Regions from separate parts of the Homo sapiens genome. Here region 2 is linked to region 1. Evidence: fine-mapped expression QTL. Tissue or cell type: sun-exposed skin. Region 1 holds a variant in brackets; the other region holds the start of a gene. All regions are shown on one strand. Distances are between the middles of the regions.

Region 1 (4,399 bases):
GACCTTATCCAAGAGTTCTTTTTTCTGGCAACACCAGGAAGAGCTCATTATAGTTTTGCTTGTGGCCTTGTCCCACAGCATAGCCTCTGAGGACAGCTCTGGGCCACAGTCGGGCTCTAGTGAATACTATAAAAAGTCATGAGAGATACAAGACATATACAAAAGACCCAGGCCTCCACTTGAGATGCAATACTCAGACACCAGAAAAGCACAAAATATGTCTAGTGTTTCCTTGTAACAGACAATGACTTGATGGTATTCAGGAACAAGGACTAACTTTGGCTTAGAGGTTGGGATAATTGTCATCTTTTCAATAGCAGCCATGACAATGCCATGTAGGAAAAAAACATCAAAGATACTTTTTAATTTTATAGGCATAATTGTATTTATTTTCTATAGCCAAGTATTAAAAAAAATTGTTCATAGGCAAGACAAACAAGGCTAAGCATTTTGACCAAGATCACAAGAAAGAGGGACTTTGCAGGTAGGCTTCTGGATTTAAAATCCAGTATTTTACATGCAGTGTTGAATTCTGTTTCCCATGAAGCAGCTGAAAGTGCCAGTTGGAGTGTTGTGGGCAAGGTCATGGGTTTTGTACCCAGTGACTCACTTAGCTACAAGAGGAAAAGGACTGTACATTTCATCTTCATTCTTACCAGGACACATGGCTTCCTAAATATACTCATTGGTGTTTCAGACAATCACACTTTATTGAACATTACCTTTATGCCAGGCTCTGTGCTTCATGCTGGAAATGTAGTCTTGTTCTCAAGAAGAGCAGAATTTAATAACAAAGACATACAAGCAAATACAGTGTAATAAGGACTCTGATAGAGGGAAACGTGGGCATGAATGGAGCCAGAGGAAGCTTGTCTAACTCGAAATGGGGGTTGGGGTCAGCAAAAGTTTCTGGGAATCCCCTGATCACAAACATCATGAAAACTGGTTAGGCTAGTTGGAGCTAGCCAGGGAAGGGGCTTTCCAGGAAGAGGGGACAGTGTTTGCAGTCATGCATTGTGGTAAAAGAGCATGACATATCTGAGAAATAGCAAGTGATCTAGCATGGTGAGATTTTTTTAAGGAGACACTGCAAGGTAGGAGAGGCAGGCAGGGTCCAAATTGAAAGTAGCCTTGGGGCCCACTCTAGGGAAGTTTAACTTTATCTTCACTGTTTTAACAAGACATGAAGGGTCTTAGATTGGGGTGGGAGTGTATGTTTCATGAAGATCCATTGCAAAGTCATATGGAAGAGGAACAGGTGGGAAACATCTGTTCCTGGAGGCAGAGCCTTGGATTCCCTGGGGAATGGCAGGAGGGGGAAGATGGCAGAAAAAGGCAGAGGACATCACTGAAGACCAAGTCTATCCAGTGTCATTAAAGGTCTTTTGTGTCCCGGGTGCCATGCTAAGTGCTCTTCATGCCTTGCCCCAAATTATCCTCATACCAACACCAGGAAGTGACTATCAGTTATCTTCATTTATAGAGAGTAAAGCCGAGGCTGTGTGTCATACACCTATAACTGTTGGAGCAGGGATTTGAACTGATCCCTAAATTAACTCCAGAAGCTGTGAAGTTAACCTCTCTGTTATATTGCCTTTTGTTGAGGATTGGCCTCATCCAGAATACAGAACAAAGCCTTTTTCTAAGACACAGGGACTTTTCAGATGGGGCAGCTCAATTTTTTTTTTTTTTTAGTTACATAGTAATAGAGAAGGGATCCTTTGTATTGCAAGCCAATACTTGGTAAGGATTCCAAAAGTGGTTTGTGGAAAACAGACTGTAGCCTTCATCTTTGGACATAGCTTGAACACAACAGGGGAATTCTTGTTTTGCTGGATGGGGCTGGGATTGGTGGAACTGAGAACCAAGATGAGGTGATAAATCTCACCTATTCTGGCCCTTTGCAGCAGTTCCCTTCCTTTGGGACTGTCATGTCGTGCTGCACCTTCGCCCCCATCAAGGGACTGCAGTAGAAGCAGT[C/T]GTATTACAAGGTGGACCAATGGCTCCTTCTGAGGGTTTAGGATGGCTGACTAGAGGAGAGCGGGGGTGGAGGTCCTCTCTCCGGTGGATGAACCTGCAAGATGAAATAGCCAGAAGCTAGGCTGGGCATGGTGGCTTACGCCTGTAATCTCAGAACTTTGGGAAACCGAGGTGAGTGGATCATGAGGTCAGGAGATCGAGACCAGCCTGGCCAACATGGTGAAACCCTGTCTTTACTAAAAATACAAAAATTAGCTGGGCGTGGTGGCAGGCACCTGTAGTCCCAGCTACTCAGGAGGCTGAGGGAGGAGAATCGCTTTAAGGTGGGAGGTGGAGGTTGCAGTGAGCCAAGATTGTGCCACTGCACTCTAGCCTGGGCAACAGAGCGAGACTCCGTCTCAAAAAAAAAAAAAAAAAAAAAAAGAAAAGAAAAGAAAAAAAAGAAAAAAAAAGAAATAGCCAGGAGTTGTTGGTGGCCAGGTTTTCAACTGTGAAGAGAAAGCTGGACTTTAGAGATGAGTAGGAACTTGACCTCCTGTAGGAAGAAGCAGAGACTGGCAGAGATGTAGCTCCTGGTTTTAGCTGTTTGTGAATTTCAGCTGCATCCAAGCCTTTTTAAGAACTGGATTATTTGATTCTTCCTTGAATCTTAGAAATGTTCCTAGTATTGTCAGTGATGACTCAGCCTGTAATCTCAGCACTTTGGGAGGCTGAGGCAGGCGGATCACCTGAGGTCAGAGTTCGAGACCAGCCTGACCAAAATGGTATAACCCTGTCTCTACTAAAAAAAATACAAAAATTAGCTGGGTGTGGTGGTGGGCACCTGTAATCCCAGCTACTCGGAAGTCTGAAGGGGGAGAATCGCTTGAACCTGGGAGGTGGAGGTTGCAGTGAGCTGAGATCATGCCACTGCACTCCAGCCCGGGTGACAGAGCTAGACTCCATCTCAAAAAAATAAAAGAAATGTTTCTAGATCCATCTAACGTAATCTTTTTATTTGCTCTCAGCAAAAGAAAGTGTTTGTTCCAGGTCTGTTTGCAGCTGTTTTTCAAAAGGTGTGTCTATCTTAGGTGACTCATGAGTCTATGTAGCCTGATTGGCAAAATGAATTGGCCACTTCTGGTTCTCTGTGTTGTACTTGGATATCTCTGAAAGAGGTGGGATTCTAGGGAGGGCCTGGTAATCACTTTTTCTAGTCATAACAACTGACTTATCTTTCATTTTTGTTCAACCCTCGTCCATGAGGGAAACCAGAACTTGTCCAGTAGGAGAGTTGGAGGGGCCTCACTGATGCTGATAGGCTGGGGTATGGTTACAAGGGAGCTTCAGGGCTGGTACCAGCCCACTGCTGACAGTCAAATGCAAGGACACAGAATTAGATCATACTCAACCAGGGCCTGGGAACAAGACACAAAGCCCAAAGGGTTTCAAGCCAGCTAGACACCAAAATGGAGCAAGGAGTCAGAGCCTAGTGGAAACAAAGGTAGATGATCTAAGAAAGCGGCTGTCAACGGGATGGGCATGCCCAAGGCTCACTTGTGTTGGCTTCTGACCTGTGTGTGTAGTGGGTCTATTTAGAGTAAACACTAGCCCCAGGTGGACAATTCCAGCAACCACTCAAGGATTAGGTCACCTAATGTGCAATGAACCATAGGCTTGGGGGTGGACCTGGTGTATGTACACAGAGGAGGCAAACAGGAGGGCAGCAGATTAAGCAAGCACATTCTTACACAGATTCCCAGCCCAAGGAAGCCCTCTTCTCATTTTTTTGGCCATGGAAACCATATAGCCATGAAATGGAACATGACTCACCAGTGTACCACTCCATGTGAATTTATGTTAAAGCAACAGATAGGGAATTTCATACAACATCTTTATTTATCCAAACATTTGGCTAATATGGGTGACGATAACAAGCATTATCTGGGTACTCTGTGGAGGCTTGCCATGACACAAATAGACCCAAAGCATGATTTTGTTGCCCCAAAACATGATTTTTGTTCTAATAGCTGTCTGGCACTCACTAATCAAGTCAGTTGAATAAACAGTGCTTCTTTCTGACGCTGTATCAGGCATGGTGTCTGTTGTCTGTCTTTTCTCACAAAGACATTTTTTTCCTAAGTAAGTATAGTATAAAGATGATTATTGAATCAACAAGCCCAGAGGCTTCACACTGCTTTCTTGCAGGGGACCAAGTGGAGAAGGAGTCAGCAGGTTGACCCAAACAGTGATCAGAATCATGCTGGTGGTTGGGAGAAATGGGTTTGACCATCAAAGGAAGGTCAAAGTGAACTAGTGGGAGATGGAGGAGGAACTTGCCCAGCAAGCTCTCACCTCCCATCTGGGAAGCTGAATCCTGCAGCCCAAAGCTGAGGTCTCTTTGTTTTACCCTTGGCTGTAGAGCTAGCTATTTGATAAG
Region 2 (4,399 bases), 78 kb before region 1:
CAAGCAAAACGTGGGCCGTGGCGTTCTGCAGAGTGGCTCGACTTATTAGTGTGTTCTCTTCAATGCCTGTCAGAGAAGAGGTGATCACTGTGTCTTATGAAATCAGATCTGTAACCGGAGAAAAGATGAAATTGCTTAACTAGCCCGACTCATGTCAGTTTTTATTTGAGAAGAGAAAAAACATCCCTTTGAATAAGAGAAATATAGCAGTCCTTATCTGTCTAGCAACTGTACTCTCTGTATAAAAAAAGGTAGCCCCATGATTCTACAATTATTTTTTAAAAATTATAAATAAATACAGTATACATGCATTGAAGGAAGGTGTGCAAACTTATTTCCTAATGGTCTGTGTGATCACAGTAGTTTGGAGACCACTGCTCTAAGTGATGAAACTTCAGGGGCCCCTGCTTTGTCCTTTGCGTATTTCTTTTTAAAGAAACTTAAAAAAATAGACATTATTATTATTTGAGACGGAGTCTCGCTCTGTCACCCAGACTGGAGTGCAGTGGCATGATCTCGGCTCACTGCAAGCCCCGCCTCCTGGGTTCACGCCATTCTCCTGCCTCAGCCTCCCAAGTAGCTGGGACTACAGGCACCTGCCACCATGCCTAAAAACTTATGTATTTTTAATAGAGATGGGGTTTCACCGCATTAGCCAGGATGGTCTCAATCTCCTGACCTCGAGATCCGCCCTCCTCGGCCTCCCAAAGTGCTGGGATTACAGACGTGAGCCACTGCGCCTGGCTGACATTATTTTTATAAGTAGTTTTAGTCCACAGAAAAATTAACCAGAAGATACAGAAATATCTCACATCCTCCCTGCCCCCCACATACATAGCCACCCTCTTATCAACGTCCCTTCCACCAGAGTGGTACATTTGTCACAATTGATAACCCACATTGACACATCATTATCACCCAAAGTCCATAGTTTACATTAGGGTTTATTCTTGGTGTTGTACCTTCTGTTAGTTTGGACAAATTTATAATGGCATGTATCTTCCATTAAACCATCATACAGAGTATTTTCACTGGCCTAAGAATCTTCTGTGCTCTGCCTATTCATACCTCCCTCCACCCTAACCCCTAGCAACTACTGATCTTTCTACCATTTCCATCGTTTTGCCTTTTCCATGTTGTCATATAGTTGGAATCATACAGTATGTAGCCTTTTCAAATTGGCTTCTTTCACTTAGTGATATGCATTTAAGTTTCCTCCATGTATTTTCATGGCTTGATAGCTCATTTCTTTTCAGTGCTGAGTAATATTCCATTGACTAAAAGTACCACAGTTTCATTTATCCGTTCTCCTACTGAAGGAAATCTTGGTTGCTTCTAAGTTTTGGCAATTTTGAATAAAGCTGCTATAAACACCCATGTGCAGGTTTTTGTGTGGACATACATTTTTGACTTCTTTGGGTTAAAACCAAAGAGTATGATTACTACATCGTATGGTAACAGCATGTTTAGTTTTGTAAGAAATTGCCAATCTATCCTTAAAGTGGCCGTACTGCTTTGCATTCCTATTAGCAATGAATGAGAGTTCCTTTTGCTCCACATCCTTGCCAGCATGTGATGTTGTCAGTTGTCAGGTTCATGACTACACCACATGTTATGTTGAGTCCGAAGGGAGTGGCTGGATGAGCAGAAAGAACACTCGGGGGGCTGTAGGCAGTTGAAAGATGACTTTATTCAGCAGCAGCTCTTATCAACAGCTTTCTCTCACACTGTCCGCCCTGTCTCGGCTGCTTAGTCTGGCGGCTCCCACACACAGCTGCGTGGCCGGCTCTCCCTTGCCTTCAGGGTGAGCAGCTTAACTCTTTCTCTCTCTGGGAGTGAGTGAGCTGAGCTGTGTCCTGGCTCAGACGGACAGCTCTGACTCGCTCGCTCTTTCTCTGGGCGCCTGCGCGCCTACCATGACAAGCCATTTCAGGCGAGCCGAGCCCCAGAGCCATGTGTCTGGTGCGCAGTGTTAACAGGGCAGTTATACCTTTTACAGACAACTGTGGCTCCAAGTCAAGTATGAACTTACACAAACAGTTTATATAACAAGTGGAGGTGTGCGCCTGCGTGCCAAACTTGCTGACTCGTGCAGGCCTGGATACCCGCCTCAGACTATTCCTTGACCGAAGCACTTCCAGGTACCTTACATCAGTGTTCCGGATTTTGGCTGTTCTAAAGGGTGTGTAGGTGGTATCTCATTGTTGATTTAATTTGCATTTTCCTGATGACATACGTCGTGGGGCATCTTTCGTATGCTTATTTGCCACCTGTATGTCTTTTGCGGTGAACTCTCTCTTAATGTCTTGGCCCATTTTTAATTGGTTGTTTGTTTCCTTACTGTTGAGTTTTAAGAGTTTTATTTATGTTTTGGATAATAGCCCCATATCAAATACATCTTTGGCAAATATTTTCTCCCAGTGTGTGGCTTTTCTTTATATTATCATAAGTATTTTTTACAGAACAGAAGTTTCTAATTTTAATGAAGTCTAGCTTATCAGTGTTTTCTTTCATAGATCATGCCTTTGGTGTCATGTCAAAAAAGTCATAACCTGGCTGGGTGCAGTGACTCACACTTGTAATCCCAGCACTTTGGAAGGCCAAGGCGGGAGGATGACTTGAGCCCAGGAGTTCAAGACAGCCTGGCAATATAGAGAGACTGTATCTCTACAGATAATTTCAGAAAAATTAGCCAGGCATAGTGGCATGTGCCTGTAGTTCCAGCTACACAGGAAGCTAAGGTGGGAGGATTACTTGAGCCTGGGAGGTCAAGGCTGCAGTGAGCTGTGGTTGCGCCACTGCACTCCAGCCCGGGTGACAGAGACCTTGTCTCAAAAAAATAATAATAATAAAAAACCAAACCAAAACAAAAAGTCACTACCAAAGCCAAGGTTATCTAGATTTTCTCCTATGTTATTTTCTAAGAGTCTTACCATTTTGTGTTTTACATTTAGGTCTGTGATCTATTTAGAGTTAATTTTTTTGTGAAGGGTATGAGATCTATGTCTTCATTCCTTTTTTTTGAATATAAATGTCTCGTCCCAGTACCATTTTTTGAAAAGATTTTCTTTTCCCCATTGTATTGCCTTTGTTTTTTTGGTCAAACATCAATTGACTATATTTATATGGGTCTGTTTCTGAGATCTCTATTCTGTTTCATTGATCTCTTTGTTTATCCTTTTTTTTTTTTCTTTTTTTTTGAGATGGAGTCTCGCTGTGTCACCCAGGCTGGAGTGCAGTGGTGCAATCTCGGCTCCCTGCAACCTCCACATCCTGGGTTCAAGCAGTTCTCCTGCCTCAGCCTCCTGAGTAGCTGGGATTACAGGTGTGTACCACCAGGCCAAGCTAATTTTTGTATTTTTAGTAGAGACAGGGTTTCACCATGTTGGCCAGGCTGGTCTCGAACTCCTGACCTCAAGTGATCCACCCGTCTTGGCCTCCCAAAGTGCTGGGATTACAGGCGTGAGCCACCGCGCCCAGCTCTTCGTTTATTGTTTTGCCAATGCCACACTGTCTTGGTTGCTGCAACTTTATAGTAACTCCTGCAGTCAGATAGTGTCGGTCCTCTAACTTTGTTCTCCTCCTTCAATATTGTGTATCCTACCACTATTTTCAAGGAAGTTTAAAAAAAAATCCATCTTTTTTTTTTCCAACTCTTGCTATCACCCTCACACTGTGTAGTAACTCAGCCTCTGTCTCTTACTCACTGGGTGATCTTAGCTGTTCTCTGCTTTTGTGAAGGAAAGAATCTACGTCAGGATATTTATAATTATAACTTATGTAAAAAATCCAAACACACTAGAAAAAGTCTAAAGCTCAAGAAACAAATATTAGCCATTACCCTCAGTTTCTGACTTGGGGATCACCCAAGCGAGTAAAAGACAGAGGCTGAGTGTGAAGGAAAGAATCTATGTCAGGATATTTATAATTATAACTTATATAAAAAATCCAAACACACTCAGAAAAAGTTTAAATCTCAAGAAACAAATATTAGCCCTGGGTCCTGGTTTGTTATTACCTTTAGGGGTGATGTGGAGCTAGTGGCCAGGCTTTCCTTTCTTCCTTTCTAAAAGGCAGGGATTAACCTGGACTATCTCAAACATTGCTCACAGCTGGGAGATCATGACATTTCAACCCTGACCCAGCAACTGAGATTGGCTTCAGTTTTACGTTGGTTTATACAGAGGTCTGTTTCTACTCTTCTTCAGATTGTAATCTAGGTTTGGGACACCAAATATTCCATTTAAAACATCTAGGGCTGGGTGCTGTGGCTCACACCTGTAATCCCCACACTTTGGGAGGCCGAGGTGGGTGGATCGCCTGAGGTCAGGAGTTTGAGACCAGCTTAAACTTATATAATTATAACTTATATAACTGTATCCTGACTTAGAGCTGATCC

Direction of the effects. Positions count from the first base shown, and alleles are read on the strand shown. Sizes are in standard deviations (SD) of each study's normalised expression.
With allele T in place of C in region 1, the expression in sun-exposed skin of the gene that starts at base 1,848 in region 2 is lower (moderate effect, 0.49 SD a copy in GTEx).

Evidence for each region. PIP is the estimated chance that this variant, and not a neighbour inherited with it, causes the effect.
Region 2: LINC02613 starts here. The variant in region 1 is the best candidate, but not a certain one, in a credible set for the expression of LINC02613 in sun-exposed skin (GTEx, PIP 0.89).

The regions. Positions count from the first base shown.
Region 1 is chr2:38,435,610-38,440,008 of GRCh38, reverse strand. No RefSeq gene overlaps it. Among named protein-coding and RNA genes, the nearest start is that of LINC01883, 6.5 kb to the right of the region's middle. RefSeq lists enhancers at 751-800, 821-1,070, 3,468-3,762 and a silencer at 3,468-3,762. The variant C/T (reference allele first, on the strand shown) is at 1,981.
Region 2 is chr2:38,513,189-38,517,587 of GRCh38, reverse strand. LINC02613 (long intergenic non-protein coding RNA 2613) reads left to right here and starts at 1,848. Exons shown (of 5, transcript NR_110259.1): 1 at 1,848-2,141.